Linked DNA regions of Homo sapiens. The protein of the gene in region 1 interacts with the protein of each later gene in a pairwise test. Each region holds a gene or a part of one and is shown on either strand. Other genes may lie near its edges.

Evidence for each region. Proteins that work in one complex are often made in the same cells at the same time.
Region 2: the proteins of BATF (region 1) and GARS1 interact in binary tests that used the Homo sapiens proteins (3 or more experiments, as listed by UniProt).

Annotation. Positions count from the first base shown.
Region 1 is NC_000014.9:75,525,465-75,532,492, reverse strand, and holds part of BATF (basic leucine zipper transcriptional factor ATF-like), read right to left. Parts: intron 1-7,028. UniProt on the Homo sapiens protein: AP-1 family transcription factor that controls the differentiation of lineage-specific cells in the immune system: specifically mediates the differentiation of T-helper 17 cells (Th17), follicular T-helper cells (TfH), CD8(+) dendritic cells and class-switch recombination (CSR) in B-cells.
Region 2 is NC_000007.14:30,625,850-30,632,877, reverse strand, and holds part of GARS1 (glycine--tRNA ligase isoform 1 precursor), read right to left. Parts: intron 6,645-7,028; coding exon 6,559-6,644; intron 4,319-6,558; coding exon 4,209-4,318; intron 1,431-4,208; coding exon 1,337-1,430; intron 632-1,336; coding exon 441-631; intron 1-440. UniProt on the Homo sapiens protein: Catalyzes the ATP-dependent ligation of glycine to the 3'-end of its cognate tRNA, via the formation of an aminoacyl-adenylate intermediate (Gly-AMP).

The DNA.
Region 1 (7,028 bases):
GTATCATTTGATATACCAATTGTATCTATCTATATATAGTACCTATCTATATATGTTGATATCATGATATATATGACATATATGATATCAATTGTACAATGGATATACTGTATTGAAAGTAAACATGTCTTTACTTTCTTGATCACGCCTGATGATGGCTGGGGGACAGTGTAGATTTTGGAGGATATTGCTTAAAAGACAAAAAAATTAATTCATGTAGAGATTCAAGGAAAATATAGGTTAGGGAAGATGAATACATCTTCATCAGAGTTTGAAGAAAGAGGCAGTAAAACTTAATGGTTAGGAAAATGGGTTCTGACGTCAGACAGACCTAGTCACAAGCTGTGTCATCTCCATCAAGTTACTTAATGCAAGGAATTATAAAATACAGCTTTTATGCAGATTAAATGAGATGCTGCAGGGAGAGCACTTGAGGCACAGTGGTTAATACATAGTCGTTTGTTCAATTAACATGGTTTTTTCTTAAAAGAAATTCATAGCAATGGAGACAGAAGGGTCGCATCTCTTTCCATAGATGGTTCACTGATTCTACATTGAACTTTTTAAGGGTGGAACTAGCCTGAACATTCCTGACCTGTGACTTATCTGTGCCAACAAACATTATGGCATGGTCTCCCAGAGAGAGCAAAAGAATTCCAGGAGTGAAATAGGACCGTAAGCATCCTTCTCTGCCTCCTCAGAAGGCCAAGAACAATAGTGCTACCCAAACATCTTTTCCTCCATTACTCAATTTTTCTCCAATTGTAAATACCGTATTTCTCACAGTGTTAGCTCAAAGCTTCATTTAATGCATAATTTATACTCATGACTTTTCTGTCATATATGACAAAGCACATCCCTGGAGCCTGTAAACCTCTCTTTTTTCTTATACTGGTGTGAGACTCCTTCAGGAGGCAGCCCCAGGCAAGCACCTGGCCCACTTCCATCTAAGACAGTACCTAAATCTCAAGCTTTCAAACTTGGCTGTTACTCTCACTTGCTTTCAGCTCCATCCACCAGGCCAGATATGACTTGTCAACAGCTCGGCTCAGGGCTAACACTGCTATTTGCCACTGCTCCCGGCAACTCCACTGATTTTAGCCTTTTCATGAATAAAGCTTCTTAATTGACCTCAGCTCTCTTTTCCACTGATCCTGGTCTTTGACTTGAAATCCTTCCAGCTGTACGGCACCAGATAGCCATGACCAACCAACCAAGATGGCTACACAAAGGAAACGGATTTGCCATCTTTTATCATATAGTACTGTGGACCTTAGAGTCACTCAAATCCCAACTTACAGTTGGTTCTCCCAAGGGCTGAGATATTTATGTATGATGTTCAAAAGATAACGTCAAGATTGAATACTCTTCCATGTCGTGATGGAAGATTATTCAATGTTTGATGTCAAAATTAGAAAAGAAATCCTCCTAATGCATGTGTGGTAATGATCAATGCTGAGAATTTTGATATCTATATTATAAAGATAAAAGCATGTGATAAAAAATCCCAAACTGTATAAAAGGTAAAGAATGCCAAGTATCTCCCTCTTGCTTTAGATCTTTAGTCCTACTTTTCAGAAATAAATATCATTAACAATTTTTTATAATCTATTTGAAAAAGTTTGCATTTATACTTATGCATATATGTAACTTTTTCTTTTTATTAAAAACACAGAAGGGGCTGGGTGCTGTTGCTCACACCTGTAATCCCAGCACTTTGGGAGGCCAAGGTGGGCAGGGCAGATCACTTGAGCTCAGGAGTTCGAGACCAGCCTGGGCAACATAGTGAGACCCTGTCTCTAAAAATAAAAAATAAATAAATAAATAAAACATTAAATTAAAAAACTAATGGTAGCAAACTATGGACTATATTTATGCCTTTTTAACTTAAAGTACAGAAGTGATAATCCTTCCAGATTAGCACATTCAGATGTAACTCATTATTTTAACATATCTGCAATATTCCACAGAATGGACAATAATTTATTGAATCCCTTATTGGTGGATTTTTTTAGCTTATGTTCAGTCTTTCCTATAAGAAACAATGCAGCAATGATTATCTTTACATGTACAGAATTGTATGATGTGTGGATTTGTTTGTGAACACACTCCTGGATGTCAAATTGCTGAGTCGCAGGGTATGTGCACCTATAATTTGAATGGACGTGGGCAAATTGCCTTCTACCAGGGTTATGCAGACTCTACTACTAGCTGTGTGTGATGGTGCCTGCTTCTCCATTACCTTGGCAACATCGTGTATCAACAACATGTTTCATCTTTGCCAGCCTCACTGCTGCTTTAATTGGCATTTTCCTAACTAAATAAGGTCTACCATCTTTTCACACATTTATTTGCCACTTATTTCTCTTTTCTGTAAATTGCCTATTCATAGTCATTGTTCATTTTTCTTTACTTTTTTTTTTTTTTTTTTGACGGAGTCTCGCTCTGTCTCCCAGGCTGGAGTGCAGTGGCGCTATCTTGGTTCACTGCAAGCTCCGCCTCCCGGGTTCACGCCATTCTCCTGCCTCAGCCTCTCAAGTAGCTGGGACTACAGGCACCCGCCACCACGCCTGGCTAATTTTTTGTATTTTTAGTAGAGACGGGGTTTCACTGTGTTAGCCAGGATGGTCTCGATCTGCTGACCTCGTGATCCGCCCGCCTCGGCCTCCCAAATTGCTGGGATTAAGGCGTGAGCCGCCGCGCCCGGCCCATTGTTCATTTTTCTTTTGGGTTGTTAATCATCTCCTATTCATAAGAGCTCTCTCATATAGTAAGTAAACATACCTTTTTTGGTCATATGTATTACAGATATTTTTCCTCAGCTTGTCATTTGCCTTTGATTTTGCATACAGTATTTTGATCTATAAAGAAACTTTTACTTTTTATGAATAAAAGTAATGTATATCAATCTTTTCCTTTATGGCTTCAGGGTTTTATGTTTTATTTAGAAAATAATTCCTCATTCCAAGATAAATTTTTAATGGTTATTTGTCTTTTCAAGTTTCTTTAGCTTCCTTTTTTTAAAAAATTTAACATTTACCATGTTGGCCAGGCTGGTCTCGAACTCCTGACTTCAAGTGATCTGCCCACCTTGGCCTCCCAAAGTGCTAGGATTACAAGCGTGAGCCACCGTGCCCAGCCCATTTTGTATTTATACTTGTGTCCTAGGAGTTGAAATATGTATTTGGGTCTTAAAATCTGAATTTGTTTTTGGGTCTGTTTCCATATTCTATCCTGTTCAATGTTCTGTCTTTTCCACATTGTTTTGATTTCTGTATTTGTGTTTCACTTTAATATGTTGGTCAGTTAATCTTTTTTCATTATACTTCTTCTTTAGAATTTTCCTGGCAATTGTCATATGATTTTTTTTCACTGGAAACTTAGAATAGCTAATCTAGTTCTTGCCCAAATCCCAGAAAACCCTATTGGGTTTTTTATTGGGATCTCATTAAATTTATCAATTAACTTAAGGAAAATTGCTAACTTTACATAAGGTATATCTTTCCAATTATTTGAATCTTTTAAAAATCATTTAGGATACACTCTTCATAATTTTTGTTAAATTATTCCTTCCTTCCATTTGCTGTTGTCATTGGTATTATAAACAGGATCTTTCCTTCCATTAATTTCCTAATTGGTTATGTTTTGCATATAGGAACGTTATTACATTTTGTTTTAATTTTAGAAGCTGACTGCATTCTCTTATTATTTCAAATAATTTTTCAGCTGATTATCTTAGGTCCACTTATTAGCTATTGATATCTTTTAGAAACTAACTGGTCAAGTTATGCCTTTCTCTTTTTTAATCAACATCTGTACTATATACAATGAACCCTACAGTTGTCTGCAGGAGAAAAGGAACTAAGTGTGCAGGGTGCTTGTGTGAGATGCTCAACAAAAGGAGAATTAAAACAGAATTAGATTGTTTGTTGATGTCACAATTACGAAAGGAATCACCGATCCATTTTATGTCAGAGATAGTCAAGGCCAGGGATTTATAACACAATCATAAAAAGAGGCTCTCTCCCTACTCTGTCAATTTTTAAAGCAATCGATGTACAGTGTCTTGGTGCCAGCCATTTATAGGATAGATGCTGAAAATGTCGAATAGTAAGCATCCCACACTCTCACTAGAGGAACAAGATAATTGTTTCAGTATTTTAAGGTTGATAATAGTGACAGCAGTTGAAACTAAGAAAACATACCAGTATATATGAGGCTAGAACCCTAATAGGAATGTGGTCCTTTTTTGATATGGTACTCTCAGTAGCTCCCAAACCCTCATCTGTAAAGCACTGGTAGGCGAGGCCTATGGCCATGTCTGAGGGCCAGAGAACAACCCCAGCATGTGGAGCCAAGCATGGAAAGGAGTCAAGGGCAAACCACACACTGAGCCCTGACACTGGTGGTAAACCAGAAGACTTTTCACCTGAATCTCAGACATAATTAAGAGGATAATGGATGGAGAAGATAGGTGATTGTCATCTCGGAGGAAAGGAAGATGTCAAACCACAGCTAATTTGATGTAGGGCAGATTGAACACGTTGCTGCCAAAAGCTTCTACCTGAAGCCAAGAAACATAAGTTGCATTGGCAGCAGTCCGCAGGCTTGCTGCATCAACTCCGCTGCGACCTACTCATTGGGCAAAAGGTAAAGACGATGCTGTGGTGCTCAAAAGAAAGCAGTGGAGGAGGAATCTGTGTTCAGATGTGGGGAAGATTGGAACATTCTAGAAACTGAGGCTGGGGTGTGGCTATGGATATGTTGACTATATGACTTGGGGCTCTGTGGACCCTCAAGCTCTAGAGATTACCCTAATGTCACATGACTTGTATAATTAGATGAGCTGACTCTTTGGGCTCTGACATTTGTCTTGGAGAGGGAGAGAGCTGATTCAGTGCTGAAAGCCTTGCCGCAGCAAAGAGACATCTGTGTCACCCTCATTAATACGTTCCCCAAGGGTTTGGATGAAGACCAGTGAGTTGAATTTACAGGGAGACAGGGGTGCAGCTTAACATAGGAAAGACTCTTCTGTTCATAAATTGGGAGAGAGGAAGATCTCCAGCCCTAGAAGTGACCAGGCATACAATGGGACCATTGGCTGGAGGTGTTGCAGAGAAGTCTGAAGCATCAAACTTATGTCTAAACTTTCTAGCCTTTAAGAAACCTTTCAACCCTGAGCTTCTGTGATTAAATATACACAAAATGTATATATGTTTTCATATATATATAAAATGTGTGTATAATTTGTGATTATCTTGCTTCTTATGATAATTATTATTACTCTTATTATACTTAAATTTTTGAGTATTTATGAATGACAGGCATTGTGTTGGGCTCTTTAAATGTACGATCTGTATAGGGTAGTTATTGTCATTTTCCATTTTCTAGATAAGGAAACCAAGCCCAAGGGAGGCCAAGAACGTCTCTGTCACACAGATAGTAGGCAGCAGGGCTGGGATTCAATCCCTGTTCTGACTGCTGAGCTGCCGAACTATACTTACATTCCACTTAAGAAAACAGGTACACACTTAAAAAGCTTACAGCAGTTTGCCAGTCTGAGGACATTGTCTACTTGTACACAAGGAAGATTTTATCCTTTTAAATTTTGATTGGTCTGTTTGCTTGCCCTAAAGAATAGTGAATCAGAATCAGACTCTGATAGAGAAAGAGGTAAGGATCATAGATGTTCAAGCTTAAGGTGGTAAACCAGAATGTGGGGACACAGTGAAATCATGGAGAACATACAAGCAGCAGGGCCACCAAAAACTTGACATTCAGACTGTTGAGCACAGTTAGTACAGACTTTCTGTTCATTCATTCTTTCCAAAAAGTTAACAAATAGCTGTGAATTTAATGTTAGTGTGCAATGGAGTGTAAGCTGAATACATTTCAAATAAAACCCAAGCACCCAATCAGAGCTGTTGGTGCAGTCTGCTCTGTTTCCTTGTAAAGCTGAAAGATGCATTATTTCCCCTAAAACTACATCTTACTTACTTATTCTTGATACGGTTAACACAGCCATTCTAACTGGCTGATTATCATGCTAATCTTCCAGATAAATACAAGCTTATTGATTTTTGGTGCCAATTGCACTTTTTCCATGGAAAGGAATTGCTAGGCTATTAGAGGTAAGGGAATGTTTCTGGAGCAAGGGCAGGAAGGTAGAGTTGCTAGGGAAGGGGATGAGGGGATGGAGAGAAAGGAACTAGTGAAGAGTTGGTTGAACAAGAACCATACTGGGGGCAGAGTGAAGAGAGGTAAGGTGGTAAGGTATGAGCAATGGGGAGGAAGCAGTACTTTATAAGGGGCACAGCCAGAACCTAGAAACACCATCTAGGGCCTTGGCCACTGGCGGAACTGCAGTTCAGCACTGCTCAAGGCCCCTGGACCACTCAAGACAGAGGTAAAAGCTTTCTCTAGAAAAATTTGGGACTAGAGGCAACTCAACTAGGATGGTGATCATCCCAGATAAGGGCACTTGAAATTGCATCTTTCATAGACCCCTTGGGATACCATTAAAGACAGAAATTTCAAAATAAGACTTTAATAATGCTCTGAAAAGAGGAATCTGGTACAGCGCCCTGTGAATTTCCTTGTGTCAAATGCAGGGGCATTTGGGTCTCTGCCAAGGGATGCGACTATGTGTGGTCCTTGCACTGCGAGACAATGGGCCGTCCCCAAAGCACTTGATACCTTCTAAATTCTTTCCCAATACAGCTCTGCCTTCTCCCACCCCTTGAGCCCTCCTGGGGTAGAAAGGCCCATTTCTCTGTTCAGCCTCCTGGCCCATTCCCTGCTACAGAGCCTTCTATTTTTTTTTTTTTTTTTTTGAGATGAAGTTTCACTCCTATCACCCAGGTTTGAATGCAATGGCGCGATCTCGGCTCACTGCAACCTCTGCCTGTTCAAGTGATTCTCCTGCCTCAGCCTCCCAAGTAGCTGGGACTACAGGCATGCACCACCATGCCTGGCTAATTTTTTGTATTTTTAGTAGAGACGAGGTTTCACCATGTTGGCCAGGCTGG
Region 2 (7,028 bases), on another chromosome or scaffold:
TTGACCAAAACTACTGAAACATGATTCACTGTTTTGAATATATGAACACGGAAAAGCTTATACATACACATGTATACGCGTCTGTAAAAATAAAACATTAAAATGTCTAACCCTCCAAAGCCTACCAATAAAACTATGGCAACAAATTCTTAGGATCATATTTCTCTTGCCCAATAAACAAACAAGTATAAAAGCAAACTGCTGGAGAATAAGCCTGGAGCAACACAAATGTTTATAAAATATTAGAGAAGTGCTAATGGATATTTTCATAATTAAACCGGGGGACTTGAGAATCTGGGCTCTGTCTGATACAAGCCGTTCATTAAAATTAAAAAGAAAAAAAAAGGAAAGGGAGCATAAACACATCAAAATCCAACACAAATCAGTAAGAAGCAGTACACATTTCTAAGGCTAAAAATGCCAAAGAGAAGGCCAGATACCTCTGCTCTTATCTGCCGCATTGAGTCACGGTCCCTCAGAGTTGCAGTGTGGGGGGTCTTGTTCACTGTGTCAAAGTCAATGGTGACACCAAAAGCCACGCCAATCTCATCAGTCCTGGCATAGCGCCTTCCGATTGACCCAGAGGAATCGTCTACTTTGTGAGATACTCCATGCCTGGTCAGGGCTTCCGCTATCCAAAATAAACAAAGTAAATTAAAAATAAAACAATGGAGTTAAGCCCAGTGTTATCTAACTACTGTCTTACAAGCTCAGGAGACTTATAAATGGGACCAAGACAAGAAAGCAACAAGTTGAGTTGCAAGAGAAAGAAATATCCCTAAAGTTTAATAAATCCCTTGCGGGAATCCAAATCTTCACTCATACCTCCATCTGATACAGCTATAGGGGGAACAAATATGGGACCAAGAGCCAAGGCCAGAAGGTGAGTCCTGACTCCACCACCTCTATTTTTATGGCTCTAAGCAGGTCAATGGACTCTCCCCATTTCCCAGCTCTGAAATAAGTGGATGTGCCAGATGACCACCAGGATTCCTTTCAGGGCTGTGGATTCTGTGGCTGTAGATCCATTATGGTTGCTACACTCCACTCAGGTTCCCTCGATGAACTTGGCACCAAGGTCAGTATGAGAAGTAAATAATTTTTAAATCTGACTCTTGGGTCCTACCTTGCCTCACTCAAATGCCAGAATAAAACATCTGAGCAAGCATATCCTCTCGCTTAGAAATAAGAGTACAGGCTAAAATCATGTACTCTTTATAAAATCATTTATATTCTTTATTCAGTCTATATTTTTATTGAAATAAATGATACATTTCCTAAAATTCAGTCTCCTTGATGGTGTTCCCATGGAGTTTACCCAATTGAATTTGCTTACATAATTCCTTGACAAATGGCATGAACTCCTGGTTTTGGCTCAGTGGGAGGACGGAACATTTGAATGGAGCAACTACAGCAGGGAAACTGAAGAACTGGATGATTTAAAAAGAAAAAAATCCAAATATGTTAATTTGTAAATATCTAAATGCTAATATCCCAAACCAAAAGAGGTTAATATTCAGCAAGTGTTCAAGCATAACGTCATTACCAAAATGCCAGAAAACATGACATGAAAAGCAGTATGGCAAAAGAGAAGCAGAACCAGCATCAGAAACACCTGGTTTCAGCTCCGAATTTAGGCCAAGTCATGAACTCTTTCTGAACCTTAGTTTCTCCACCTAAAAAGCAGGTCTCTACCACCTGCTCTGCTTGCTTCACAAGCCCGTTACTAAAAAAGTCAAATGATGTGAAAGCATTCTGAAAGCTACTGTATATAAAAGACGGTAATTTTTTGGTTCCACATAAAAGACTTTCTGTGGAGACTACCTAAATATTCAAACAAGTGGCAGTGACCCAAACCAAAGCCCATTCTGTCTTTTAAGAGAAAAACCTATGAACCTCAGTGACCAAGTGAAACAGAAAAGTTTAATTAGCTCACAAACATATGTCCAAAAGAAATAGTACAAAACAAAAAAAGATGTTCCATATACCTACACTAAAAAGTACAGCCTTCTTAAACTGCCCTGAAATAGTTTCTGAGTAACTCAGAAATCAAAGAAAGCAAAAATAAGGCTGGACACAGTGGCTCATGCCTGTAATCCCAGCACTTTGGGAGGCTGAGGCAGAAGAATTGCTTGACCCCAGGAATTCAAGACCAGCCAGGGCAACATGGCAAGACCCCATCTCTACAAAAACTAAAAAATTAGCTGGGCATTGTGAGGCGCACCTGTGGTCCCAGCTACTTGGGAGGCTGAAGCAGGAGGATTGCTTGAGCCCAGAAGTTTGAGGCTGTAGTCAGCTGAGATTGTGCCACTGCACTCCAGCTGAGCAACAAAGCGAGACCAAAAAAAAAAAAAAAAAAAGGCGAAAATAAAAATATTCTGTGGAAGGCAAACCAATCAACCACTTTAGGTTGGAAATGGGAACTGAAGGCAGTTCTTAATACTTGTACAAAAGGTTCACTTGAAGGCAAAAACACAGAATAAATTTGTCCCATAAAAATAATGAATGACACAGGTTCCAGTTTAGCCTCTCACCCAAAGTTCAATTAACCTTTATTGCCAAGCAATGAATATCCCACTCTAAGTAAGGCCTGTATTCCACCAATATGGCTGCTCACATCACAGAAGGTTCAGAATTCTATTCCCTTCCTCCATCTTGTGATATTTCTATTTAATATAAGAGAGTAACAGGGACCTGCCTTTATAGAAAAATAATTTTTAAAATTTCACTAGCAATGTTTTTATACCAAATTTATAGGCAAATGGATTGAGGAACTAGGTGCTAATAATTTAGAAACATTTTTGGCTTCCCACAGCCTAATCAAATTTCTCTTCATGATGGGAATTCATGCAATTCATAAAACACTGTGACTAATTTATTCTTGTTTAGCCCTTACGAAATTTCTATTAAAGCTCTAGTTATATTAATATTGTTAGATTCAAAGGAACAGCTAAAAGATTTTCTAAAACCTTTTTATTAGAAAAATAAGCAGACAAAGCTTGAAGCAGACTTGACATCTAAAAAGAACACATGCAGTTATGTTTGTCATCATTTCTCAAAAAGAACCAAGCCTTATGTTTGCGCACCTGGGGCCTAGCCCAGGTTCTTACAATCTGTTGAATGAATAGGGCTGCTCCTTCAAGGTTGGGAAATGAAGATGCAACTTTAGGGCAGAGAGTACCATACTAACTTTATTAGCTATGTATTACAATAGTGTGTCAGACTAAAGTACTGGTGCCGAGAACTCACTAGTTCATTCTTTGAGGTTAAATGTCCTAGAAAGAACCACACGGTTGATGTCTAACATTACGTACACTCAAGCTTTAGAATGGCCAAGTGGATGACGCTGTTTCTTTCAATTAACCTGACATATACAACCTCTCCTTTCTAGCCATTCTTCTGGTTGGCTTTCCTAGTAATCTGCCCAGGAGTGTAACTTCTGCAGGCAGAGGTGAGGTAAAAATGGTGAAGTAAGGCAAGGAGATAAAGAGGAAGAAGGCAAGGAGCAGTGATTCAGAAGCATCAGACCGAAAAGAAAATTTGTGGGAGCTGATGAAGACTTCTTATAAACTTCTATCTTCAGCAATACTTGAATGCTAGGAAAGGCTATACCCCAGACAACTATTATCCCATTTATGATCTGTCAAGCTTTCACAGTGAAATCACTCAGGATTCTTATTTTTTTTAAAAAAACCCCAGATCCCTGGGTCTCAGACCTAGTGAATCAGCATCTCCAGAGTAGAACCTAGGAATTCACATCTTTACCCCAAAAGTACCCCAGACAATTTCATGCAGTTTGAGAGGGTTCCCTTTGATACTTTACCAGAGTACAGATACAGCTTAGTGGTCTGGCTAAATTCTAGGAGTTATCTCATCCTTCCCAATTTTCTGAAACACAGCATATCCAGAAAGTACCATTCCTTCCATTGACATAATATAGATTGTTCCCCAAAGTAATAGGTTCAGTCTAAGAATAGAGAGCACCAGGCAACTAAAACAATAGCTTCTAGAATAACCTAAAGCTCAAATAAGATAACACAGGAAACTGGTTTGTCTATACATACTTAAGCAAAGATGAGTGTTAATAGCACTAGATTATAGTAATAACTAATTGACCATTCTAGAGTCTTATTAATGTACTTCACAATGTAATTCAGAAAATTTTTATTTTCTGACACTATAACAGCACACTGTACACAACAACTTACTGTTCTCTGTTCATCTCCTTCTCGTACATGGAATGTATGTTCAAATACCGTATACATGATCCTACCCAGGCCGAAGGAAGGTTCAATTACATTCGGAACAACTTCTTCCACTGAAAAAGAGATAGAAATTCAATAACATTCTCTCAAATACCACATAATGCATTTCAGATTCTCTCTAAACAATTCACCAGCTGCGGTGGCTCACACCTGTAATCCCAGCATTTTGGGAGGCTGAGGTAGGTGGATCATCTGAGGTCAGGAGTTCGAGACCAGCCTGACCAACATGGTGAAACCCCGTCTCTACTAAAAATACAAAAATTAACTGGGTATGGTGGCAGGTGCGTGTAATCCCAGCTACTCCGGAGGCTGAGGCAGGAGAATTGCTTGAACCCAGGAGGCGGAGGTTGCAGTGAACCAAGATCGTGCCATTGCACTCCAGCCTGGAAGGCAAGGGCGAGACTTCATCTCAAAAAAAAAAAAAGAAAAGAAAAGAAAAAAATTCTTAGCACTAAAAATATCTCTATTCTAGATGGATTTTTATCTCTGTATATCAGAACAAAGAAACTAGAACATACCTAAAAACTATTTGCTGATAGGAAACATGCCTTTGAAGAGAAAGCTGGAGTGAAAAAACCTTTCACCAAATTCTGTTTATACTGTGTAAAAATGAAACCTGAGGTACTAGAATATTCCTTCACCAGTCAGCAAACTACGAATAGCAGCAGCTACACTTTATCTCTATTACCTGCCTCGGCTACCCAGAAAGCATAAAAAATCTAAGGCTTTTAATAAGATTTTGCTAGAATTTAAAATCTAACACAGCTGGCAAAATTCACAAAAACAATTCCTACATGCAAAAAGTATTACATGGTTTGTATTTGTTTAACTTTTTAGCTTGTTATCTTGATAAGAACTTGTTCAGAACCAAATTACTGGCATTGTATCACCAAGGTTCTGGGGTCAGGACGCCCTTAGGGGAGAGTTTGCTCAAAGAACAGCACTCCATCAAAGACATCTTACAGGGGCTCACAGCTCTTCATGTGGGTAAGACAACACCCGTGGTATACACAGGAAATATACTGATAATTATTACTTATTATGTGGAAAGGAAGAAGCACTGCTAAGCAATGTCCAGGTCTAAGATAACTGGTCATAACTTTGGAAGAGTTTATGTTTTTTGGGAAATGAGATCATTGGTACCAAAACTCACACACATATGGGAAAAGAGAGCCTGTTTGTCTATGATAAAGAGTTAATACTTTAGAAACATGATCAAGGCATTTTCCTCCCATCCTTCTGTGGTATCTGAGTAATGGTGATGTGCAGCTCTGAACCAGCTGCCAGGATCATGGCTATAAAGCCCCAGACTGTGACGGAAAAGCCCCAGAGTGTGATGGAGAAGCCCCCGCTTACTCCTAACACTGCTCACTGAAGCCTGGCTACAAGACAAGCCAAGAACAAAAGGAAAGGTATGCTCACTCTTTCCACTGGCAGTAGCTTCTCAAACACCCATTACTACTCCGTTTCCAGGAATTTCAATTCAGCCACAAATAAACTTCAGCATCCTTCATACGTGCTCCAAATTACTCATTGCCTAATTCACAGAATTTGTTCTACAAAAAAACATCTTCTTAACTTTTAAAAAAGCATGCAACATCACTGGTCTAAATTACTTTTTTTTTTTTTTTTGAGACGGAGTCTTGCACTGTCGCCCAGGCTGGAGTGCAATGGCGTGATCTCGGCTCACTCCAACCTCCACCTCCCGGGTTCAAGGGATTCTCCTGCCTCAGCCTCCCGAGTAGCTGGGATTACACGTGCGTGTCTCCATGCCTAGCTAATTTTTGTATTTTTAGTAGAGACGGGGTTTCACCATGTTGGCCAGGTTGATCTTGAACTCCTGACCTCGTGATCTACCCGCCTTGGCCTCCCAAAGTGCTGGGATTACAGGCGTAAGCCACCACGCCCGGCCCCTAAATGACTTTTTAACAAGTTATTTTGCCAAAGAAGACAGGGAATGAGGGCCAGGCGTGGTCACTCATGCCTGTAATCTCAGCACTTTGGGACGCGAAGGCAGGTGGACTGCTTGAGCCTAGGAGTTCAAGATCAGCCTGGGCAACATGGCAAAAACCTCATCTCTACAAAAAATACAAAAATTAGTTGGATATGGTAGCCTGCACCTGTAGTCCCAGCTAATTCGGAGGCTGAGACAGGAGGGAGGAACGCTTGAGCCGGGGAGGCAGAGGTTGTGCCACTGCACTCCAGCCTGGGTGACAGAGCAAGACCCTGTCTCAAACAACAACAAAAGCTTTAAGGAGCAGTGACTTTTTGTTTATTATTTTTACAAATTTACCATATAGTGTTTTCTGGAATCTCTTCACATTGATCATGTCTTTTGTTAACTGAAATGTTTTCCCTTCAGTTTCAATTGTGAATTCCCTACGAAGAAACAAAACACATTTTGTATTAGTTCAAACAGGCACCCTGTGCCTTAATTTAAAGGAATTTTGTAGATTGCTAAGTTGTTTTTTCTTTTTATAACTTGATCAACTCTCCAGATATAATAAGTGATGTCAAATTTAAATTATTTCATAAGAAACACCAAATTAAGCATTAGTCTAACAATGGCACCAAAAAGTACTCTGAGGACATACACCAAATTTTGACTAGTTTTATAAAACTCCACAAGTGACTTAATGACAAATTCCTTTGGTTTTGAATCAAGGTAAAACCAAAAACAACTTTTTGAAAATTCAGTTTTAGAATAATAACAACTTTGTCAGAAATAGGCCTGCTGGTAAAAACACAAGGGTTCTCATTACT